2 linked regions of the Homo sapiens genome follow. The protein of the gene in region 1 interacts with the protein of each later gene in a biochemical or structural test. Each region holds a gene or a part of one and is shown in the gene's direction. Other genes may lie near its edges.

Region 1 (3,657 bases):
TTATGAAAGCCTTTCAGAGCTGAGAGAATATACAGAGGGTCTCACGGAAGCCAAGGAAGACGATGATGGGGACCACAGTTCCCTTCAGTCTGGTCAGTCCGTTATCTCCCTGCTGAGCTCAGAAGAATTAAAAAAACTCATCGAGGAGGTGAAGGTTCTGGATGAAGCAACATTAAAGGTAGGTTTCCTTTGTAAGCATCTGCAGTAACCAATGGCTTATTATGGCTGTGTGGCCACCTTAGTTGGGCCAGAGGGGAAGTAGCTTGAGTAGCCTGCTCACATCAGACCCAGGTTGCGTCCTGTGATGGTGGGACACTGTAGCACTTGACCACAGTAAGACCTTCCATTTGAAGAGAGCCTTTTAGCTTGTGAACCACTTTCAGTAGATTGACTTCTTGCATCTTCTTTTGTCATTTTATAAATGAGAAAGGTAAGGCTCAATCAAGGTTACAGAACCTGGGTTTTCTGTCTCCAAGTTCAAGTTCAGTGCTGTTTCCACATTCCATGTGCTGCTGTCCTGGCATGTGTCTGTTGTGGGATGCTGTCCATTGTAAACAATGTGGGTTACAAGAGCTCTCACCTGGAGCTTTCATTATTTCCACTGTGCATGGAGAGGTGGCTGATCCCAGGGCTCACAAGTCCCCCACGCTTCAGTCAAGTCATTCTGAAAGTCTCACTTCCCATATGTTTTCTGAGCATGACCCAAAGGGGTGTGGGGAGGAAGTGGCCAGGCTGAGCTGGGGCCAGCAGTCAAATGAGCTCAGGCTCATGGGTCCTGCACCCTCTAGGTGCTGCCCCAGGCCTCCGTAGGCTTTTGGCACTAGAATGATCCAGGCTAGGATGAGAGGATAAGGAGGTTCTCGTTTTCCATACAAGGAGGCCTCATAGCTGCAATTTCCACATCAAGAGTGTAGGTGAGTCTGATGAGCCCAAGGTGCTGCTGTGCTGAGATTCTTTCGCTGTGGCTTTCACTTGTCACCTGGGACCATCATCCCCCAGGATCTTACTCAGTGCAAATGAAATAACAGAGGCAGAGCGTGTAAAACACAAAGAGCCATCCTGCCTGAGCTGCTCTGGGGAGAGTATTTGCTTTCTAACATGAGAAGAGCCTTCTACAAGGCAAGTAACCTGATACTTGGGTAAAAGTTGAGAGAGTTGGGCTAGTGTTGGGGCTTGGAGGTGAGGGTGCAGTGAGGTACATTCATCCTTCCATGCCTTTGGGTCTTAGGGGCTCCAAGTCTTAGGATCATAGGGACAGCTGCAAGTCAGGTGCTCTAGTGACGCTGAGCAAGTGAATTCTTTGACATAAGTTTACTCCTTAGTGCCAAGGTACAAACAGGTGCCCCAAGAACCTGTAGGTGTACTTTATTTGGTCTGCATGGTGATGAAAAAAATATTGAATTCTATACATGATAAAACCTGAATTGAAACCTGGACTTTAGGGAAGTGATCTGGTAGCGCTAGTTCTGTATGCCTACGTAGAGCTGACCCTTTGAGCAGATGTACTCGTTGGCGCTCTGCAGTTCCTATCACACATCTGCCCATTTGGCTCATTTTAGGGACCTGCCTGACTCCTATAGGCATCTGAGTTTGAGACCCCTGCTCTAGACTGGAATAGGAGTCTCTGACTGTGTCCTGGCTCCATGGGAGTCCCCGTCTAGGCTAGGAAGTACCGTAGTAATGTGTGTGTGTGTGTGTGTGTGTGTGTGTCACACTTGCACACTGTGCATTGGGGCAGGATGTTAGCTGGGCTTCCTTAGTGCTGCTGCTGTGACCCATGGAGAAGTAGAAGGGAAGAAGGAGCAACCAATTCCTGCAGAACAGCACTGACCCCTGTTTTGTTTTTTGTTGTTTTTTTTTTTTGTTTTGTTTTACCTGAAGTCCTACAACCTGACTTCATCTCACACTGTCCAATATGCTGATTTCTGGCTGACTTCATGGCACTCCCCCTGCCCGGCTGTGGACAGGGTGAATGAGAGAGGAAAATAATTATGCTTGCTGCTTTACATACATTTTTTTTTTCTTCTAAGCTTCCCATGACTCCTGAAGGTCCATTCTTTACAGATGAGGAAACTGAGGTTTGAGGAGGTGATGTAACTTGGAGGCTGGCCAAGCTGGGGTTTGAGATAACAAATCAGTCTGATGTCAGTCCGATGTTAAATTGTTCATCCTCTTGCAGTAAAATGTTTTTGAATGTATGTATTTCCTCTGCAGCAATTAGACGGCATCCATGTCACCATCTTACACAAGGAGGAAGGTGCTGGTCTTGGGTTCAGCTTGGCAGGAGGAGCAGATCTAGAAAACAAGGTGATTACGGTGAGTGGCCAAGTGAAGGGGCATGTCACAGCCAGAGGCAATGGTTCTGGGGGAGGGGGACACACTTGCCAGGAAGGGGCCCTGTGCTGGGGAAATGAAGAATGCATGACACTAGGCCACTGGGCAGGTCCTGTCCACTCAGCACATCCCAGAGCCTGGGGCTGCGTGGAGAGGGTAGCAGGCCTGGCCATGGGCATCTTTTCCTGTGGGTCCCACTATTCTGGCTCATCCAATCTGATCAGCATTGGCTGCTGCCTTCAGGTCACCTGTACCTGACCCAGATGGTTTCTGGTTCTGCCAGTTTTGTGGAGCCATGCTGCGGCTGCTCGCTCTCTAAAGCCGAGTGCATTGCTGTCATCCCAGGGCTGTGTTGTCTCAGGGTATCCTTTGTGTAGGCTGTGCTGGGCTCATTTGAATTTCCATGCCCAACTGAAAACAAATCCTCCAGTTCACAGCATCAGCCAGCATTCAACATACCACACCCCCTTGCAGTGGCAATCTGGCATGTTCCTGCGTGTCACTTCAGAGTCAATCATGTCAGTGGTGACTTCCTTGATTTCCTGATAAGTTTTCTATCACATAAAAAACACTTAAAACCTGTAAGTCTCTATTTCTCTCACTGAGTGCAGCTGAGTATTACAAAAAGATTCCTGACCGTGTAGTTTACTTTCTACTTGAAGAGGAGGAAAGAGAGCTTGCCTGTGGGAATGGCACTTTGGGTATTTTTCTCTGTCCATGAGTAGCAACTTCTGTCCACGTCATCTGGCCAGTCACCCTTGAGACACTGCAGACAACAGGAAACTAGGAGGAAGGCGCACATGTTGGCTGAGCACATGCACAAAAGCTTCTTTCTCCTTCTGTGTTTGAGCATTTCTCTTCCTTTCCAGATGATTAAAAGGGAACTAACGTAGAGCACCATCCACGGCCATGCTGAGCACTCACTGACCTGTTGTCTAAATTCATCCTACCCACACTTTGGATTGATAAATTGGTGGCATTTATGCTTCTTTTATAGAGGAGGAACCTGAGGTTCCTCCTTTAATTAACTTTAATCTTCGTTGGCCTAAAAATCCTCTAGCATTGAGGAACCTGAGGCTCAGAGGAGAGGTTCTGCTTCATGCTTGGATGTTACAGCCTGGGGATTCTAACCATGTAACAGAATTTTTCTAACACCAAAACAATTTAGAGAAGCAAAGAGCTTTGCTCCTATCATAAAAGCAAAACTACAGGTACCACATTTTAGTGGTTTCCATGCATGCTATCACTCAGTCCTCTTAATTATAATGGACCTCATTAAAGAGGCTGAGGCAGAGACATGAGATATTTTTGTGTGTTTGTTTA
Region 2 (3,657 bases), on another chromosome or scaffold:
GTTCCCAGAATCACTAACATGTTTCCCAGAAGGAAAAAGTAGAAAGTTAAAAAATGAATTCTGTTCTAAATACAATAATATTTATTATAATCTTTCTGCAATGCAACCATAATGCTTTATACACTATTAATATATCACATCCTAGGTTTTAAGTTTTAGTTGCTTATAACATGCAATTTTGACATTTACAATGTCTACTTTTTTATTCATTGGCATAGTCATTTATAACTCATTTCAAGTTCTTAAGTAAGTTGGAAGATGTTTGCTTAGTAGTTGAGAGTACTAGAAAAACATCTTTAATGTCTAGAATTTTATTACTAAGTTATATTTGAAAATAATTTGTTTATTTAAAATTGTAAGATTTCTTGGAAACAATTCTTTGAGAATACTCATGAAAATTAGGCTGTATGGAGATCGACTGGGAAAAAAAATGCAGGTGCTGGAGACAACCTGACCACTAGCAAAATCATTATACTTAGATTGAAACTGATCCTAAAGAACTCTTTCAGAATTTGCAGGGAGCTTGGGGATGCTTTGCTCCTCTCTCCAAATGAGAAGGTAATGGGGAAATCCTGTGATAAGGGTATAAGGAAAGCAAATACGAGAGCAGGCTTTACGCCTTTGACATCGGAAAGTCTATAGTCATGACTAGAGTTATTCTCTTTTGACTTTTGTCACCAGTGGGAAATGAGAAAGGAACATGAAAGACTTTTCCTTGATTTATCAAAGGATGATACCCTTGCAGAAAGCGCTAGCAGATCAGGGAAGCCATCCATGTTCGAGGGTTGTTGAGGCCAAGCTAGGCTGAGACCCTTGATTCCCAGGTCTAAATTCCAGGAAGACAGTGAATCTTAGAAGTCTAAAGTCTGAATGGCCAGGCGCAGTGGCTCACGCCTATAATCCCAGCACTTTGTGAGGCCAAGGCGGGTGGATGACCTGAGGTCAGGAGTTCAAGACCAGTCTGGCCAACATGGTGAAACCCCGTCTCTACTAAAAATACAAAAATTAGCTGGGCGTGGTGGCGGGCACCTGTAATCCCAGCTACTTGGGAGGCTGAGGCAGGAGAATCGCTTGAACCTGGCAGGCTGAGGTTGCAGTGAGCTGAGATCACGCCATTGCACTTCGGCCTGGGTGAGTCTGTACAAGATTAAGTTTCTAAGAACAAACCACGAATGAAGATAATACTACTGTATGATAGATATCTTTTCAAAAGTTTGCGGTACATAGACTTTTTAAAAAGTCTTCAAAATATTTGACATTTGCAAAATAAAAATTGTCTCAAAAAACGAAGAAAATAAATCATTATATTTGTGACTTGTTTGAATCAGATAATGATGGTGGTGAATACTACTGCTTTAACTTGAGGCTTTTTTCTTTTCATTCTTTTAAGTGTTCATAAATCTTTTAATGTTGACACCATCAGTCTAGATAACTAATAATCATCCATTGTTAAGAATGATAATATTTCCTTTGATTGTGAGACCAGAGAAGAAATCATTTTAATCAAATGGAGGTTTTGTTCTTACCTTAAGTGCGAACAAAACCAACCTCTGTACCCTGGGTCCAGTAAAGCTATAACCAGAATATATTTTTAATCACTGTGACCGGCATTCACTTAAGCAGAGATAGGGCAAGGAGAAAGAGACCATGGTGTGTACTATTGTCAAACTAGTTATCTTTCATAGGTTTTTAGACTTGTGACTACTTCAAAACCCCTTTTCTGTTTTCATTGTTTCAGTGTGATGGAACAGATCTCACCCCAAAGATTCAGGAACTGAAGTTCCAGTGTATAGTATTTTTAAATATACCCAGGTAGGCTCTGTTTGTATTGTTTCCTTGGTTTGACGTGAACTCTGACTTGAGGTTATCTGTTTTCATAACAGAAAAGTTTCAGATGTAAACAATGAAGATCAGTTATCTAAATGGGTAATTAAAGATTTCTAGGTCTGATAATTCATTCTCCGATTTGGTTTATTTAGTGTTCTTTGTGGTTGGTGGTTTTGTGCGTCATGTGGCATGCATTGTCTGTACTTACCCATCTTTAAGAAACCCAGGCACCCCTCTTGACTGGAACATCTTAATTTATTTCTAAATTACTGTTCTTCCCCTCTTCCTCCCCATCTAAGAATGAGAGAATTGAAACACTTTTTTTGTTCTCAGTTTCCTAAAAACTGTTGAAAAACCATCCAGTCTGATTCAAGTGCGGAATTCATTCAAAATTGTTGCCAGATGATTTCTTTGAAAAATAGGATGAGTTAGAGTATTGTTTTCTAGCCAGGATGTCAACTCTCCATGGTGCTATTACGCACTTCAGGAGAAAGGGATATTTAAGATAACTAGACTCAAAATAAACATATTATCTCAGTGGCATAAATTATGTTCTAGGCCCTGAAGCCAAGATTTTGGAAGGGATGGATCTATAACCATTTATTTGCCTGCCAAACAACTCAGACACAAAATCTGCAAATACATTGTATTTAGACTGAATTTAATTGAAATGAGAGTTGTATGTAAATCTGTGGCTAGGAAAACACATCATAGTCTCCTGATTATTCTTGGCAGTGCTCAATATAGTCAGTTACAATTTTATTCCAGAAATATTTACAGCTTAATTGAAGTAGAAGGCCTTGATTCTCAGAAAGCATTGTTTATTACTTTGCTTTATTATTCTTTCTCTTGTCCTTCCTCTCTTGTCCTTCTTCCTCTCTTGTCCTTCTTCTGTCTTTTCTTGCTTCTCCCTCTTTCCATCTGTATTCTTCTTCCTCTATTTCTCCAATTTCTTCTGTTTCCCATTCTCTTTCTAATCTCTTATCTATATTTCATCTCTTCTTCACTCTGTCTTCCATAGTTACCTTTCCCTTCTCCTGTGAGTACCTCTTATTTTGCTTATGTATTAATGGCAAATGCTTCCCACTTCATTTCCCTGTCTCTTTTCTACTGGCATGCATACATCTTCCTTTAAGACCAAATTCTGAAACCACCTATAGATAATTCATGATATATCATAGAAAACAGACATACATGAATCATAGTGAGAAATATAGATAACGAACGAGGAGAAAGTTGGATACCACAGGATACTTTTGTTGCAAAATTATGGCCCGTTTTCACAGCTTGGTATTTTGTAGATGATAAGAAGTGCATTTCCTTTTCTAATGGAAGGTGTGTACCAAGAATGGAAAACTGTTTTTATGTTTGATAAACATTGGGTCTAACTACAAACTAACACCTCATGATAGTCATGAGAAGGATGGGACATATTTACTTCTGTCTTTAATCTTCTCTTGCAGATATTGTGCTGGCACAATGCCCTGGGGAAACCCAGGTGATCACCATGATTTCGAACCTCAGCGTCATGATGATGGTTATATTGAAGTCATTGGATTTACCATGGCCTCTTTGGTGAGCAATATAACTGTTTTATTAAAATGAAATGTATTTTAGTCACAGAGTTTATTCAATTCACAGGACTTTAGTTAACTTTTTCTCCTGCTTTATCAAGTTACACATTTTATGAATTATAGAGTTGCTTAGGAAAAACAAGAAAAAAAATCATCATTTATGTCACTAAGAAAACTGATGCACATTTGTTTGAACCTCAAGAATAAATGAGTATCACTTCTTACTTTTCCTGATTAATTTTCTAACAGAATGAAA

What was found. Proteins that work in one complex are often made in the same cells at the same time.
Region 2: the proteins of IL16 (region 1) and DGKI interact in a test that uses a peptide from one of them, tested with the Homo sapiens proteins (one large-scale study listed by IntAct).

Annotation. Positions count from the first base shown.
Region 1 is NC_000015.10:81,301,335-81,304,991, forward strand, and holds part of IL16 (pro-interleukin-16), read left to right. Parts: intron 1-9; coding exon 10-178; intron 179-2,214; coding exon 2,215-2,316; intron 2,317-3,657. UniProt on the Homo sapiens protein: Interleukin-16 stimulates a migratory response in CD4+ lymphocytes, monocytes, and eosinophils. Primes CD4+ T-cells for IL-2 and IL-15 responsiveness. Also induces T-lymphocyte expression of interleukin 2 receptor. Ligand for CD4.
Region 2 is NC_000007.14:137,570,920-137,574,576, reverse strand, and holds part of DGKI (diacylglycerol kinase iota), read left to right. Parts: intron 1-1,738; coding exon 1,739-1,812; intron 1,813-3,290; coding exon 3,291-3,402; intron 3,403-3,657. UniProt on the Homo sapiens protein: Diacylglycerol kinase that converts diacylglycerol/DAG into phosphatidic acid/phosphatidate/PA and regulates the respective levels of these two bioactive lipids.